2 linked regions of the Homo sapiens genome follow. The protein of the gene in region 2 purifies or fractionates together with the protein of the main gene of each other region. This does not show direct contact. Each region holds a gene or a part of one and is shown on either strand. Other genes may lie near its edges. The genes, in order: PAX5 and NTRK2.

What was found.
Region 1: the proteins of NTRK2 (region 2) and PAX5 purify together in Homo sapiens (affinity purification with western blotting; one study listed by BioGRID). This does not show direct contact.

What each region holds. Positions count from the first base shown.
Region 1 is NC_000009.12:36,961,148-36,964,968, forward strand, and holds part of PAX5 (paired box protein Pax-5), read right to left. Parts: intron 1-3,821. UniProt on the Homo sapiens protein: Transcription factor that plays an essential role in commitment of lymphoid progenitors to the B-lymphocyte lineage. Fulfills a dual role by repressing B-lineage inappropriate genes and simultaneously activating B-lineage-specific genes.
Region 2 is NC_000009.12:84,725,139-84,728,959, reverse strand, and holds part of NTRK2 (BDNF/NT-3 growth factors receptor isoform a precursor), read right to left. Parts: intron 1,307-3,821; coding exon 1,001-1,306; intron 1-1,000. UniProt on the Homo sapiens protein: Receptor tyrosine kinase involved in the development and the maturation of the central and the peripheral nervous systems through regulation of neuron survival, proliferation, migration, differentiation, and synapse formation and plasticity.

The sequences.
Region 1 (3,821 bases), about 48 Mb from region 2:
CTCAACATGCTCAGAAGCACAAACCAGCCCCTTCCCAGGAACAGGATGCCCACAGGAGAAGGCAATGCTGTTCGGCCCACCAGCCTGGAGAGGTGCCACCACTGAGGGGGCAAAGCAGCTGATGAGAGCAGGAGGCATTTCTAGTGGTTTTCTCTGTTAGACAAGGGGCAGATCTTCTCCCAGTTTAACCTCCTGTGACCTTTGAACTCCCTGGGAGGTCAGCAGCACATCCCCTTCCCCAGCTGTCTCTCTGTCTCTGGCCCAATGGGAGGGAGGGCCCTGGCCCGTTCCATTTTGCACCCGTATTGATCTATTGGCAGCAATGGGATGGATAATTAGCCAGGAATTAGGGTTTCTATTACAGCCAGGAGGCTGCTCCAGCTGATTTATCACCTGAATAATTTACTGTGATTGAAAGGAAATTAAAATGAACTCCATTTGACAACTGTGAGCTTTTATGGGCTTTAGTGAAGGCTCAAAAGCCAGATTAATAGCCTGGTGTTGGTTAATAGTCTGCCGAGAGTAAATACGGCAGGCTATGCTCCGTAGCCTTCCTGTGGCCGCCGGAGGAGGGACCCGCTCCCAACAGGAGCGCTGCGCCGACGACAACGTCAACGGGAGTTTTACTGAAACAGATACCACTGTTGGAAACATACACACACACACGCACGCACATACACACGTGCACGCACACACACTCGCCACCAGCAGCTTTCTTTTCTTTTCTTCCTCCAACGTGATTTTTACTCACTCCATATGTAGGGAAAACAGAATTGCTTTTTCAATAACCGTTTTGAAAAGGAAGTGTTTCATTGCCCAGGCGTGGTCAACATTAACGCCTTCCACCCAGGGCAAAGCGTTTACTACATTTCCCTACAAAAGCCAGCAGCCTGGGCCCACCCACCCAGGTAGATCTTGGCGGGAAAAGCTGCAAGTGGGGCAGGCTCCGAGCTAACAGCAGTAACTGTCAGGACCCCTGCCTGGCCCCAATGAGGAATGTTCTTCCCATGGGAGACAGGGTGGGAGGATCCGGGAGGATGTGGCCTCTCCAAACCTATGGCAAGTTCTGAGAGTTCTGGATGACAGGCAGACTCTGACTGAAATAGGCCAGGTCTGGAAACCAGCTAGCCAGAAAACTGGCCCCTGGAATCGTCCTGGACCTGGAGGCCCATGGAACCATCTTGCATGAGATGAAGACAGAAGACCCTGAGATGAGATTCCAGCTCTGCGGTTCAACAATCTTGGAAACTCCTTGAATAAACAATCTGTGAAAAAAAATGTTCTAGTCTATACAATGGGGCTCCCGAATCATGCCCAGCCTGTTTGGCAGGCATTTGCCTCGGGGGTCCAATGAGAGGATGGATGTGAACGGTCTTTGTGAACTGAACGCTGTGGTGTGTAGGTGAGGAGGATCGCTGTCGTCACGTTCGGTTTCGGCTGCTGCAGCTGTTCTTGTTGTTGTCGTCATCAAAATCATGATCACTTCTACCACAGATATGGAAACTGAGGCCCAGAAAAATAGTGACTTGCTCGGCAGGGCAGAGCTAGGACTCAAATCAAGCTTCCCGACCCCAAGGCCAGTAAGTGCTCTTTGTTCCCCACCAAGCTGCTCAGCGAAAGTGACAGCAAGGCCCCCATCCAGGGCACTAGGCCACAGAGACACACACTGAGACAGCTCAATCTGCTCGAAAATGGAAGAGGCAGCCAGCCTCCGCGGCCAGCACCTCAGGCCCCCTTCCTGTCACCACCGCCATGCCACGCTGGGGCTCACAGGCGAGGCCTGTGGAACATTCACCTCTTGGAGAGCTAGCATGAGGGGCTCAAGGAACCTGTACCCTTGACTGACATCCCTTCCCAGCCTGCGGCCCCTTGCTCAGGCATCATTTGTCCAAAGTGATTGGGAATCGGGCACGAGGGTATGTCATTCATAGTCCAGTGCCTGTGTGTGGGTGCAGGGCAGCCCCGTCTCCTCACCTTCCATCTCTCCTCATTAAAACACATTACAGGGAGGTGAAGCAGATTAACCAGAAAACACTGGGTCAGTCATTATCCTGCCACACAGTTCGCCTGCAGTCGCCGTCTCAGAGCGCACAGTCAGAGACAGGCCTGCAGACGTGCCTGCTCATTCTGAAGGACACTGGAGATGCTGAGTCCTCACAGAGTTTGTAATCAGGTCTCCTCCCCATCAGACCCCATCTCTCCATGAGCCCATGGGACCTGTCCTTCAAGCCCCCCATCCAACACTGCCCCCTCAGTGCCATTGTCCTTGATGCTCCCAACCCAGGTAACATCCCCCTCTCTGGCTGACACCTCATCAGGACCCTCTGAACAGTCTCTCTTGTCCTGCGGGCTCTGAGTCCACAGCACGCTGCCCCTGCGAGACTGGACAGAGCTGATGAGCACTTGGCACTGTGCCTGGCTCCCAGCCCACGTTCAGGGAAGAAGTTAGAGGAGTGGCATGTGAGCAGGTGAGTGAGTGAATCCATGGGCGGCTTCCAGACCACTCAGGGATGAGGTCTTGCAGGCTGCGTGGTCTTCCTGGGCACTCTGAGCTAAAGGAGTTATGGTGCAGATTCTGAGTCTCCATGACGGTCATGTGAAACACAGAGGGAGTCTCACACGGAGTGTCTGTGTGAATAAGGGGTTCACAGAAACACTTGTGCTGCAGAGGCCAGGTGGAGTGCAGAGGCCTGGATCCCCGCTCTTCCCTGTTCACTTGCTGGGTGACCTCAGACATGCCCTGTCCTCTCTCTGGGCCTCTAAAAAAACAACAGGTTGAAATCTTGCCTCTGTGGCTCCTGTTACCCCTAAAATTACATGATCTTGTCAGCCATTAGAAGATAAACTTTCTGGCCGGGTGCAGTGGCTCATGCCTGTAATCCCAGCACTTTGGGAGGCCGAGGCAGGCGGATCATGAGGTCAGGAGATCAAGACCATCCCGGCTAACACGGCGAAACCCTGCCCCTACTAAAAAATAGAAAAAATTAGCCGGGCATGGTGGCGGGTGCCTGTAGTCCGTCCTACTCGGGAGGCTGAGGCAGGAGAAAGGCGCGAACCCGGGAGGTGGAGCTTGCAGTGAGCCGAGATCGCGCCACTGCACTCCAGCCTGGGCGACACAACAAGATTCTGTCTCAAAAAAAGAAAAAAGATAAACCTTCTGGCTGGGCGCAGTGGCTCACACCTATAATCCCAGCACTTTGGGAGGCCAAGGAGGGTGGATCACCTGAGGTCCGGAGTCCAAGACTAAGCCTGGCCAACATGGTGAAACCCCATCTCTACTAAAAATACAAAAAAATTAGCCGGGCGTGGTGGCAGGCACCTGTAATCCCAGCTACTCAGGAGGCTGAGGCAGGAGAATCACTTGAACCTAGGAGGTGGAGGTTGCAGTGAGCTAGGATCACACTACTGCACTCCAACCTGGGCAACAAGAGCAAAACTCCAGCTCACAAAAAAAAAAAAAAAAAGAAGATAAACTTTCTTCCACATTCTGGAGGGAAGGACAGGCCTCATCCAGGAAGGTTTCCTGATCGAGGCCCCTCTCACTCTCCTCCCGTGTCAGAGAAAATGTGCCTTCTGCCGTCTCTCAGAAGGGCTCTGAGCAGAGCAGAGAGGGTGCTTGTGATAGAAACAGACTCTCCTCCCTGAAGTCCAAGATCTAGAGTGTGTGGGGGCGGCTATGCCCAGCACCATAACCATGTCCTACCCAACAGAGGTGTCACTCGACTTGTAAGAGAAAGACTAAAATCCTCAACCCAGTCTACAAGACCAGGCCCACCTCCCCAGCATCATCGCCCGCCCATCCCTGAGCCACAACCACACCG
Region 2 (3,821 bases):
ACAGCTCCCAACATCCAAACACAGGCCTTGGCCACCACATTGGTAGCAAGCATTTGGGCAATGAGACTGAGTAGGTAAGAACACTCCACTGAAGGACAGCATCTGAAGCAGGTAAATGCATGACACTTGTCCCACTGTTCCTGAAGCTCACACTGACACGCTCCTGCTGTGCCCAGAGTAGACCCCTGATGCTAGCCATCCTTTCCGCAGTCCTAGCCTTTGGCCAGAGAAGCACTATTACCACTCCTAGGAAAACAGCTCCGGAGCCAATAAAAGAATCACTCAGCTCAGTCAGCCCGGGTAAGCAAAACAGTCCAAGACACTAATTTCTCATCCATGGATGAGAAACCAGAATTCTCCTTTTTGAATTAGGTAAGAGGCTAGAAAATAAATCTTAAATGCATCACGAGCCAACCATACACAGTTCCTGCGCTTGCGGTTTTGCATGGGTTTTGCCATTGTGGGTACAAAATCTCATTAAATACTTGCAACAGTGATGGAAATAATAATAATAACCCTTTTCTCATAAGATACCCAAGCATCCTGGAGTAGTTATTAATCCAGTGTGTATCAGATAACTGTTCAAAATTATTAATTTCCTCATCACCTTCTTGGGAGGAGTACAACTCCCTGCCCCTTAACTTGGCTTTGGCCCTGTGACTTGCTTTGGCCAATGGCAGATAAGCTGAAGAGACAGTCCAGTGCACCAGCCCTGAATCTAGGCCTTAGGAAGCCTCACATCGTTGCAGTTGTCCTCTTTCACTCCACACTTATCATAACAGGCACATCTCCTATGTAGCTGCTGCTTCATGACCCTGAATTCCACAATAAATACATGCAAAATAAAACCACTCCGCTGACCTATGGATCCATGAGCAACACTAAATAATGGAGTTTTAAGCCACTAGGTTGGGGGATGGCTTATTGTATACATGATTTTGTCAACAGGTGAATGATAGACTTTATCTTCTCCCCACATACAAAAGTGTCAGTTACTCACCATCGTCAATTCCAGGCCAGCCCATGAAGTGAGCAGAAATCTGTTTCTCATCCTTCCCATACTCATTCTTGGCTATTAGAGTGTAGTCCCCATTGTTCATGTGAGTGGGATTATCCAGCTGGAGGCAGCCGTGGTACTCCGTGTGATTGGTAACATGTATTTTAGTACAGATGTATTTGGACTCATTCAATATTGCCCCGTTATAGAACCACTGAAGCGCTGGTTTGGGGTTGCCTTTCACAGTGAATGGAATGCACCAGTGGTGGTCTGAGGTTGGAGATTCGAGAAATGTGATAGTTGGTGCAACTAAATTGAAAAAGAGAGAGTTAATAGCATCAGAAAGCTCAGAATTCTCCCCATCTCGAGATGTCTGTGTCATTGATAGGGAATTTTACTCAACCATTGTTTGGCTTAGAAAAACACATCATCAGAAACTCTGGAATCCATCAGTATTTTGTATCATCATCAGGGTGGATGTAACTCCCCAAAGAGAGCTTCAGAGAGACTCCTTTCTCTGTTCTACTTAAGACCCCTGCATTACAGTCATTTCTCAAATCTATTCAGTATAAGTGAAAACCAGCTCCAAACAGATCCAAGAGATTTCTGACAGCGGAAAGAGTTCATTTGAAGTTGACTTTGGTTTCTAATATCTGTATCTTGATATTATACAGATTCATCACCAAAAAAACTCAAAATAATAAAATAATGAATACTTTTTGATAGCACTTCTTTCCTAAATAACAAAAATGACTTTTAAAATTTTGCCTGAAGCCCTGATCTCACATAACTTCGAAAACAGATCAAACTGATCAATGCAATAAATGTTGCTGCTGATGATGAATTATTATAAATATAACAAATCAACATTTATTACTGATTGTCAATAGTAAATACTCTTTGAAAGTATCACATTTCATGATAGTGTTGTCCATTTTTGCTAGGATCCTAGATGCCAATGTTTAGATCTTTTAAATGTTTGGGGTCCAATCTAAGCCTGGACAGAGTAGGGATTATTTCAACTTTAGATATAAAGCACTTTATGCTTTGGGGAAACAAACATTATCAAGTAGAATTTTTAAACAGAGTACTTATCCTAAGTGAGGGTATTTAAAATGCTTCATCTGTTCATTTTAATGTAGTCTGGCTTTGGTAATTACAAAATCAAGGACTGGAAAAGACCTTTGAGATCTAATAGCATCATTTTTTTCAGATGAAGAAACCAAAGTGCAATGAGGTTAAGTGAGCTCATCAAGGTTACTGAGCAAGGCAGATCTGGAACAAGAATCTTGAATCCTGATGTTTAATACAGTGGCCCTTCCCTCTCAGGCACTGCTTCTTGACTGTATGTGTTCATCAAACAAGAGGAGAAAAAAATCTAAGGTATTGTAGCCAGGGAACAGACAAACCCTCTGAGTGGGGTCTCTGCACTGGTTATCTTGGTTGTTAATATTTTTAGTTTGTTTTTTGTTTTTTTAGACAGATTCTCACTCTGCCACCCAGGCTGGAGTGCAGTGGCACGATCACAGCTTACTGCAACCTCTGCCTCCCAGGTTCAAGCGATTCTCATGCCTCAGCCTTCCGAGTAGCTTGGATTACAGGCGCCTGCCATCGTGACCGGCTAATATTAGTATTTCTAGTAGAGACGGGGTTTCATCATGTTGCCCAGACTGGTCTTGAACTCCTGATCTCAAGTGATCCACCCGCCTCGGCCTCCCAAAGTGCTGGGATTACAGGCGTGAGCCACCACACCCAGCCAGTTGTTAATATTATTTATAATTTATTGCTTCTGCTCTTTGTCTAAACTATGACAGATAAGGTCAATTTTTCAGAGCCTAGTGACCATACAGATATTAACCTGAAACTGAGAAAAAAACTCAAGTTTGGATATTTTTAATAGAAAGCAGGTAATCTGATATTACCCCCTTACTTGTATTCAGGTAAATCCTCCCACAGTACTACCTAGGAAGAAGCAAAGCCGATAAAAGGACCCAATTCACTTTCATAATTTACGGAAAGATTTCCAGTTACCAGTGACATTCCTCTCAACTGAGCACCTGTGCAGCTGAACTCTGCACATGTATGTTGTGACTATGTCCCTCACTCTGAGAAATGTGATATTACTAAATTTAAATGGGCAAAGTTTAATTGTTTGCTTTACCAAATATCTCTCACAGGCCTCCTTAAAATAGTCTTTGGAAAACAAAAGTTTTTAATATGTGACTTCATCTATAAAAATTCAATTAAAATATAATTTGGGGAGACCCTATATATATTATACATATGCATATATATATACATAATATATATATAATATATATAATGTACATATATATATATTACACAAAATAAGGTCCATACATGTGTAGATACACACACTTGTAGACCTGTGCTATGAACCAACCACTACAAGGACCACAGTGGGGCAGGGGCCACACTTACCTTCCTCCCACCAGCCCAGGTCCCCACACCCAGGGCCCATCATTCCTTCCACCATGCTCAAATGAATTTTGGGTTAGGTGCTGATTTAAGGACATACAGTTGAAAGTGCTTGCATATGTTTGGAGATAACATTGACTTCAGGCTTCTGAGTGGGTCAAAATGATGAGAAATTATGAGTTTAGTACCCACTGGGCATAGTGATTGTACTAACAATGATAAAGGATTACAGCTGATGATTTCAATCATTCACTCCAGCAATCACACACTGAATGTGTGCTATGAGTGAGTGTTAACCAGCATATTGATACCAGCTATGGCCATGGGTCTACACGTGTGTAAGTCAGACATACACTTACACACATGCATGTTCATGTTTTTCTCA